3 separate regions of the Homo sapiens genome follow, and regions 1 and 2 are each linked to region 3. Evidence: fine-mapped expression QTL. A gene starts in region 3. Each other region holds a variant in brackets. All regions are shown on one strand. Distances are from middle to middle. Region 1 overlaps CCDC62 (coiled-coil domain containing 62). Region 2 overlaps CCDC62 (coiled-coil domain containing 62). Region 3 holds the start of DENR (density regulated re-initiation and release factor).

Evidence for each region.
Region 1: its variant is fine-mapped to the expression of DENR in fibroblasts (GTEx, PIP above 0.99).
Region 2: its variant is fine-mapped to the expression of DENR in whole blood (INTERVAL, PIP 0.99).

What each region holds. Positions count from the first base shown.
Region 1 is chr12:122,788,712-122,791,474 of GRCh38, forward strand. CCDC62 (coiled-coil domain containing 62) reads left to right here. Exons shown (of 13, transcript NM_201435.5): 5 at 47-218. Among named protein-coding and RNA genes, the nearest start is that of CCDC62, 16 kb to the left of the region's middle. RefSeq lists an enhancer at 1,192-1,745. The variant A/G (reference allele first, on the strand shown) is at 1,222.
Region 2 is chr12:122,815,205-122,817,967 of GRCh38, forward strand. The region is part of intron 11 of CCDC62 (coiled-coil domain containing 62); the gene reads left to right. Among named protein-coding and RNA genes, the nearest start is that of HIP1R, 19 kb to the right of the region's middle. The variant T/A (reference allele first, on the strand shown) is at 1,607.
Region 3 is chr12:122,751,682-122,754,444 of GRCh38, forward strand. It overlaps DENR (density regulated re-initiation and release factor), which reads left to right and starts at 1,143. Exons shown (of 8, transcript NM_003677.5): 1 at 1,143-1,269; 2 at 2,012-2,126. The coding sequence starts at 2,021. RefSeq lists enhancers at 1-500, 1,592-1,651 and a silencer at 1,402-1,451.

The sequences.
Region 1 (2,763 bases), 37 kb after region 3:
TGGAATTTAAGAATCTAGGATAACCATTTTCAAATTTGGTTTTTAGGACAAAGATATTATTGAGGCAGTTAATCACATTGCAGATTGTTCGGGTAAATTTAAAATGCTAGAGCATGCCCTACGTGATGCCAAGATGGCGGAGACTTGTATTGTGAAAGAAAAGCAAGATTATAAGCAGAAATTGAAGGCACTTAAGATTGAAGTCAACAAACTAAAAGGTAAGGAAGAGACCTACATTTAAGATACAAATGTATTATCTTGGGAATATAGTTTTTCATCTGGGTTCACTTAATCTTATGCTTGAGAGTAGATCAATTCCTGGCCTTAGACCCTAACGTGAAATATCCATTTCATTTATATAGGATTATGCTGCAATTTGTGTCTTATAAGATATATAACAGAGTTGGGGAAAACTGCAGAATGTATCATATTTTAAAGTAATCCTGCCTTAGTTGAGGTGGCTGTACCATTAGCTATCGCTAATACATGCTTTGTGGCAGACAACATCAGTATCTCAGTGGCAGACAGTCGTAGCATTTATTAAACCCACATGTCTAGAGGCAAATGGGGGAGTTGGCTGACTGTGGTTGGGCCTCACTGAGCTTCCCATCTGGGCAGTTTTGGCTCACACATTTCATCGTCTTGCTATCAGGCTAGCCTGGGCATTTCTTCCCATGGTGAGGGCAGAAACTTCTGATTCTGAAATTAGGAATTTTTATTTTTGCCGATTTATTTATTTTCGACAGAATCTCACTCTGTCACCCAGGCTGGAGTGCGGTGGTGCAATCTTGGTTCACCACTGCCTCCACCTCCTGGGTTCAAGCTATTCTCCTGTCTCAGCTTCCCGAGTAGCTGGGATTACAGGCACCTACCACCATGCCTGGCTAATTTTTGGATGTTTAGTAGAGACAGAGTTTTGCCATGTTGGCCAGACTAGTCTGGAACTCCCGACCTCAGGTGAATCCCTCTGCCTTGGCCTCCCAAAGTGCTGAGATCTACAGGCGTGAGCCAACACACCCAGCCGATCTTTGCTGATTTAACTTAAAAGATTCAGCATTCAAAAATGTTGTCCTTATGATGCCTTGACCTATGGTTAGCCATAGGTCTTATCTCCATTTGTAGCTTCAGCTAAAACCATAATCGTATTATCATCCCCTTGACAGCAGGAACAGACTCTGCTTCTCTTTTTCAGTGTACTGTTAATAGCATGGCACAAGGGCT[A/G]CACTCTAGGTATTTGGTATTTATTGAATGTTTATATACACCGAGGTAAAATATTCAAGTAGAAAGAAGTCTGTTCTGTCAATATTTATATACTAAAAACATTTTATAAATTCAATATTAAAACTTTTTTTTTTTTGAGATAGTGTCTTGCTCTGCTGCCCAGGCTGGAGTGCAATGGCGTGATCTCAGCTCACTGCAACCTCCACCTCCTGGGTTCAAGCAATTCTCCTGCCTCAGCCTCCTGAGTAGCTGGGATTACAGGTGGGTGCCACCATGCCCGGCTAATTTTTGTATTTTTAGTAGAGACAGGGTTTCATCATGTTGGTCAGGCTGGTCTCAAACTCCTGAGCTTGTGATCCACCTGCCTCAGCCTCCCAAAAGTGCTGGGATTACAGGCATGAGCCACCACACCCAGCTTAAAACTTTTTTTTTAGAAAAGAAAAATAGTGGCTGGGCATGATGGCTCACATCTGTAATCCTAGCACTTTGGGAGGCCAAAGCAGGCAGATTGCTTGAGGCCAGGACTTCAAGAAGACCAGCCTGGATAACATGGCAGAACCCTGTCTCTACAAAAAATTAGCCAGGCATGGTGGTGTGATCCTGTAGTCCCAGCTACTCGAGAGGCAAAGTGAAAGGATTTCTTGATCCCAGGAGGTGGAGGTTGCAGTGAGCCAAGATTGGCCACTACACTTCAGCCTGGGCAACAGAGCAAGATCCTGCCTCAAAAAAATAAAAAAAAAGAAGAGGAATTTTTATAGAGCTCAATCTCCAGCCCTCCCTCCCCTTCCTGGAGGTCCACAAGTGGGACTGCAGGTTCCAGCCCTGTCTTCACTTGGTGTTTCTGGTGGCTGTCTGCATCCTGAGGCCACGTAGGAGCTCCACCCTGAGTCACCTCGTTAGCATGTAGTCTGGTGTAATCAACTGACTCTTCATGAATGACAAAAGATGCTTCTGTCACTTAGGAAATTCCACAAGTTTTAGGAGCTCTGTTCTCCAGGAACAGAGGACAAAAACCACATCTATTTCTTCTTATACCACAGACATACTCAAGGAACAGAAGGAAAGGAGGGAACGGCGGTGGGGAGATGGGCAGGTCAGGTCATGCTGGGCTCTGCAGTTTGTGGTAATGGATTTGGATTTCATCCTCAGTGCAGTAGCAAGGCTTCTCACTGAGAAATGACACGAGCAGATTTTTATTTTTAGTTTTATTTATTTATTTATTTTTGAGACAGAATTTCACTCTTGTCGCCCAGGCTGGAGTGCAATGGCGCGATCTCAGCTCACTGCAACCCCCGCCTGCCTCTCAAGCAATTCTCCTGCCTCAGCCTTCTGAGTAGCTGGGATTACAGTCGCCCACCACCACACCCAGCTAATTTTTGTATTTTTAGTAGAGACGGGGTTTTACCAGGTTGGCCAGGCTGGTTTCGAACTCCTGACCTCAGGTGATCCACCCGCCTCAGCCTCCCAAAGTGTTGGGATTACAGGTGTGAGCCACTGCACTTGGCCTTTATTTTTATTTTACTTTACTTTTTTTTGAGATGG
Region 2 (2,763 bases), 64 kb after region 3:
AGTAGCTGGGATTACACGTACACGAAACCACACCCAGCTGATGTTTTTATTTTTTGTAGAAACAGGGTCCCACAATGTTGCCCAGGCTGGTCTCAAACTCTTGGGTTCAAGCAATCCTCCTGCCTCAGCCTCCCAAAGTGCTGGGATTATAGGCGTGAGCCGCTGTGCCTGGCCTGGCTTTTCTTAACAGTGTCTTTTAAAAAGCGAAATTTAAAATTTTGATTACTTCCAACTTAACAGGTTTTTTTTTTTCTTTTTTGAGACGGAGTCTCGCTCTGTCGCCCAGGCCTTGGTGCCAGTGGCGCGATCTCGGCTCACTGCAAGCTCCGCCTCCCGGGTTCACGCCATTCTCCTGCCTCAGCCTCCCGAGTAGCTGGGACTACAGGCGCCCGCCACCACACCCGGCTAATTTTTTGCATTTTTTGGTAGAGACGGGCTTTCACCGTGTTAGCCAGGATGGTCTCCATCTCCTGACCTTGTGATCCGCCCGCCTCAGCCTCCCAAAATGCTGGGATTACAGACGTGAGCCACCACACCCAGCCTATTCTAGTAGTTTTTTTGTAGATTCCTTAGGATTTTCTACACAATCATGTCATTCATGAATAGAGACAGTTTTATTCCTTTTTCCAATATTTATGCCTTATTTCATTTTCTTCCCTTACTGCTCTGGCTAGGACCTCCAGATGAGTGTTGAATAGAAGCAGGGGAGCAAACATCTTTGCCTTATTTCACGAAATGCTCTCTGATGGCAATTCTTGCTTAGTCCTTCAGATTGGTATTTTGTTAGATTCAGAGTTCCCTGGAGCAGTTTCTATGTGCCGCGAATAGATCCAAAACTAGAACATTAATCATTTTAGAATCAAGATGCTCACTGCCATGAGCCTAAACAGGTAGTTGCAGAGATTACCTTAAAGCAGAACAGGATCCAAAACTAGAAATTTTTCAAAGTATACCATGTGTGCCATATAAACTTTTCAAAGTGGAAACCGTGATGGACTCTGGTGTTTCCTAGGAAGATTTCTTCTTCACAAGCTGTCTCTGAGGCATTAGTGAAGCGTTGCATTTATATTGGGGCAGAGGAAGGTTTTTAATGACAAAACTATTTTGGTGCTTAGCTATCCCTTTAAATGTATGCAGTGAGGCTGCTTCTTCCCCTGTGTCTGGGGAGAACCTTTATGACTTTTCTAGTCATTCTTTGGCAGCTATTTCTTTAAAATACATTTTTTTAATTGAGATATAGGCCAGCCATGGTGGCTAATGCCTGTAATCCCAGCACTTTGGGAGGCCAAAGCAGATGGATCACTTGAGCCAAGGAGTTTGAGACCACTCTGGGCAACATTGAAAAACCCCACCTCTACAAAATAAAAAATTTTTTTTAATTAGCTGGACACACTGCCATGCACCAGTAGTTCCAGCAACTCAGGAGGCTGAGGTAGGAGGATCACTTGATCCTGGGAGGTCAAGACTGTGGTGAGCCATGATCTTGCCACTGCATTCCAGCCTGGGTGACAGAGTGAGACCCTATATCAAAAAGAGAGACAGAATTCACATTTTATTATTTACATACAATTCACCCTTCTAAAGTGTACAATTTGGTGGTTTTTTT[T/A]AAATCATATTAATAAAATCGTGCAGCCACTACCGCTATCTAATTCTAGAATATTTTAATCACCCCAAAAGGAGACCCCACATCCACAGCCACTGGTTACCACAATCTACTTTCTGTCTCTATGGATTTGTTGGACAGATAATTTTAATCAGAATTTGTTGACTAGAATTCATGGGATCCATGAACTTTGATGGAATAAAGATTACATGCCAGTTTATTTTTATTTTTAAATTTTATTTATTTATTTATTTATTGTTTTGAGACAGAGTCTTGCTCTGTCACCCAGGCTGGAGTGCAGTGGTATGATCTTGGCTCACTGCAAGCTCCACCTTCCGGGTTCACACTATTCTCCTGCCCCAGCCTCCCAAGTAGCTGGGACTACAGGCACCCGCCACCACGCCTAGCTAATTTTTTTTTTTTTTTGGATTTTTAGTAGAGATGGGGTTTCACCATGCTAGCCAGGATGGTCTTGATCTCCTGACCTTGTGATCCACCCGCCTCGGCCTCCCAAAGTGCTGGGATTACAGGCATGAGCCACCATGCCTGGCCTATTTTTTTATTTTTATTTTATTTTTGAGATGGAGTTTCACTCTTTCCTCCACTTCCTGGGTTCAAGCGATTCTCTTGCCTCAGCCTCCTGAGTAGCTGGGATTACAGGTGTGAGCCACCATGCCTGGTTAATTTTTTGTATTTTTAGTAGACAGAGTTTCACCATGTTGGCCAGGCTGGTCTCAAACTCCTGACCTCAAGTGATCCTCCCAACTTGGCCTCCCAATGTGCTGGGATTACAGGCGTGAGCCACTATGCCTGGCCCAAATTCACGTTTTCCAAACAAGCATTATAGCAACAGATGTCTCCTCCTTGTCCTCGTGGCTTCAGGTTGTTCTCTCAACCTCTTTGTTAGGGTTTTATGTCAAATTCCTGAGATATAATCAATCACTCCCTCATTTTTGTCCTGCTAGTGTAGCTCTGTGTGTGTGTGCCTGCACATGTGTGTGTGTGCATGCATGCGTGTGTGTGTGTGTATCTGCCTCCATCAGAGTGCACGTCAGGTAGCCAACAGGTGACTGCGTCCATGACTCCTGCTCACTGTGAACGCCTCAGGACCCTTCTCCACCTTGGCACCCTGGCTGCAGCACCCAGCATCTGCCACAGGC
Region 3 (2,763 bases):
TCTCAGGAAGCACAGGGTTGGTGGTAGGGTTACAGATTAACAGCATCTCAAGGCAGAAGAATTTTTCTTAGCACAGAACAAAATGGAGTCTCTTATGTCTACTTCTTTCTACACAGACACAGTAACAATCTGATCTTTCTTTTCCCCATATATTCCCATACTCTTACATTTTTCTTTTTTTCATTAAAAAAAATTGTAGGCCGGGCGCGGTGGCTCACGCCTGTAATCCCAGCACTTTGGGAGGCGGAGGCGGGAGGATCCCTTGAGTCCGGGAGTTCGAGACCAGCCTGGACAGCATAGGGAGATTCCCCCACCTCTATAAACAAATTAAAAATTAGCTGGGTGTGGTAACGCGCGCCTGTATTCCCAACTACTTGGGAGGTCGAGGCTGCAGTGAACCGTGTTTGTGCAACTGCACTCCATCCAGCCTAGGTGACAGAGTGAGACCCTGTCAAAACATAAAGAAAAGGATGAAGGAAGGGAGGGAGGAAGGAAGGAAGGGAGGGAGGAAGGAAGGAAAGAAGGAAGGAAGGGAGGGAGGGAGGGAAGGGGAAGAAAGAGACAGAAAGAAGAGAAAGAAGAAAGAAAAGAAAGAACAGAAAAGAAAGAAAAAAGAATTCCTTTAATTTAGTGTATGGTGTTAAAACGCAACCAAACGCTCCATCCGGCGAAGAGAGAGAGAAAAGAAGAGAGGAAGGAAAGAAGGAAGGGAGGGAGGGAGGGAGGGAGAACACCTTCCTTTAATTCAGTGCATGGTGTTAAAATGCGACCAAACGCTCTATCCGGCTGCAATCTCCCCGCACGGGAGTGATTTATGCAGTAGCTGGAGGTTAGTCAGGACTCCAGGATGCACCGCAGACACCGAGGCGATGATCCTCGGACTCATTAATAGGGAGTCATTTGTGACTCAGGTGCGCTCTCTGCGTCTGCAAGTCACGTTCCCTTCGGCACGCCCATCTCGAGGATTCATCCTCTCCAACGGGTGACGAGCACCGCCTGCCGGCGGCCCGCCTCTCGGCCTCTTGGCCACGCCCCCCACCGGAGGGCAAGGCGCACGCTCCGCAATTTTTCTCCGCCCCCGTCTTCCGGCTTCTCGCGACATCCGCCCAGCGGCGGCCGGAATCTCGCGATAAAGGCTCATTGTCTCGCGGGAGCGCTGCTGGCGGTCGGGCGCTCGGGCGGCCCTGGCCGGGGAGACGAGTTGCATGTGTTGGTTCAGCTGGCGATAGCGGCGGGAGCGGAGCCGGCGGGGCCTGTGCGACCGCCTGGGTAACGACCCCAAGTGCTTCTCCCGCTCCCGAGAAGCTCGTAGAGAGTGTGGGGGAAGCTGAGATGCTGCCTGGCGGAAGGGGGCCGGGCCGGGCCTCTCCACACCCCCGCCCACAAGGGCCCCTTCTGGCGTCCCCGGGGTTGCTCCTTCGCCTCAGACCTGGTCGCCCTTGTCCCCTCAGTGCTCTTACATTCTGCGCTCGTTTTCTCTCCTCATCCTTCTTACGCTCTGGTTACCCCGCCCCCTCCCATGCCCTTTTTAGACTCCCCAGGCCCCTCTCATGGCGTTTAGTTGCCCCCACACCCTGCACCCCGGGCTTCTCCGATGACCCACCCCTTGTTCCTAGGCACTTCCAGCCTCTCTCCATTCGGCGCCTTTGTAGCCCTTCTCTCACTGCAGTTTGCATCCCTCCCAGATCACCCTCAGACCTTTTTGCTCCGTGTCTGCCGTGGGTACTCACCCCATCTTTCCTTCCCCATTGCTTCCTGTTTTTCTCTAGTGAGTCCCTCTGCCCCATCCTTCATGGTCCATTTGCTGCTTGCTTCCCTGTAGACCTGTGGAGCAAGGAGATGTTGTGCCTGGGATTGCTCATATTTTATGAATCGAATGCAGCTTGTATCCCCCACTCAACAACAGACTTGAAACAGCTTTGGGGTGGGGAGGTTTCTGTTGAGAGGAACACTGCTCTTCTGGGGTCTTGATTCTAAAATAGTGAGGGTGTGTTATTTTCCTTGCTTACAGGTTTGTGAAATGGCTGCTGACATTTCTGAATCCAGCGGGGCTGACTGCAAAGGAGACCCAAGGAACAGTGCCAAGTTAGATGCCGATTACCCACTTCGAGTCCTTTATTGTGGAGGCAAGTGTTGGTAGCCACAGAATGACTTTTACTCACTATACTTTTATGCATTGTAATAACAGTTTGACATTTGGTAAGCTTTCTTCCCCATCCTTTTCATTTGGTGAGTTTGTACTGGGGGAGAGGAGTCCTGGGGAGGAGGAGGCATGAATTAACAGAGTTTCCCCACCTGGGTGATTTGTGTCTGGCTACTCTGCCTGAAGAAGCTTACAGTCCATTTGTAACAGGATGTGCAACTAGGTTATTTCAGCCTGAAGGTCCTCAAGGTGTATGCTAGTCTAGCTGTCAAAGGAGGGCTTCTTGGAAGATTATGAGTTAAGGATGGCAAGGACTGGATGAGAAGGTGGGGAACGGCGTCCCAGACAAAGCGCACGACTATGTAAGAAAAAGCTTGATGGCTGTCTGTGAAGAAGTGAGCAGCTTTGAGTTTGTCTGGTGTATCGTATAGGGAGGGTGGCCCGTTAAGGAGTGGGAGAAGGTGAGGTTGGAGTGTTGGGTGGTAGGACAGTGAGGAAAGTCTTCTTGGTTTGAATCATGATATATGTATTAGGTTTAATCAAGATCTTTTTCACTTTCGAGTGTTTTTCTTCATTTTCAATATAGAAATATTTGTGAATTGTAAATGCTGTATGTATTC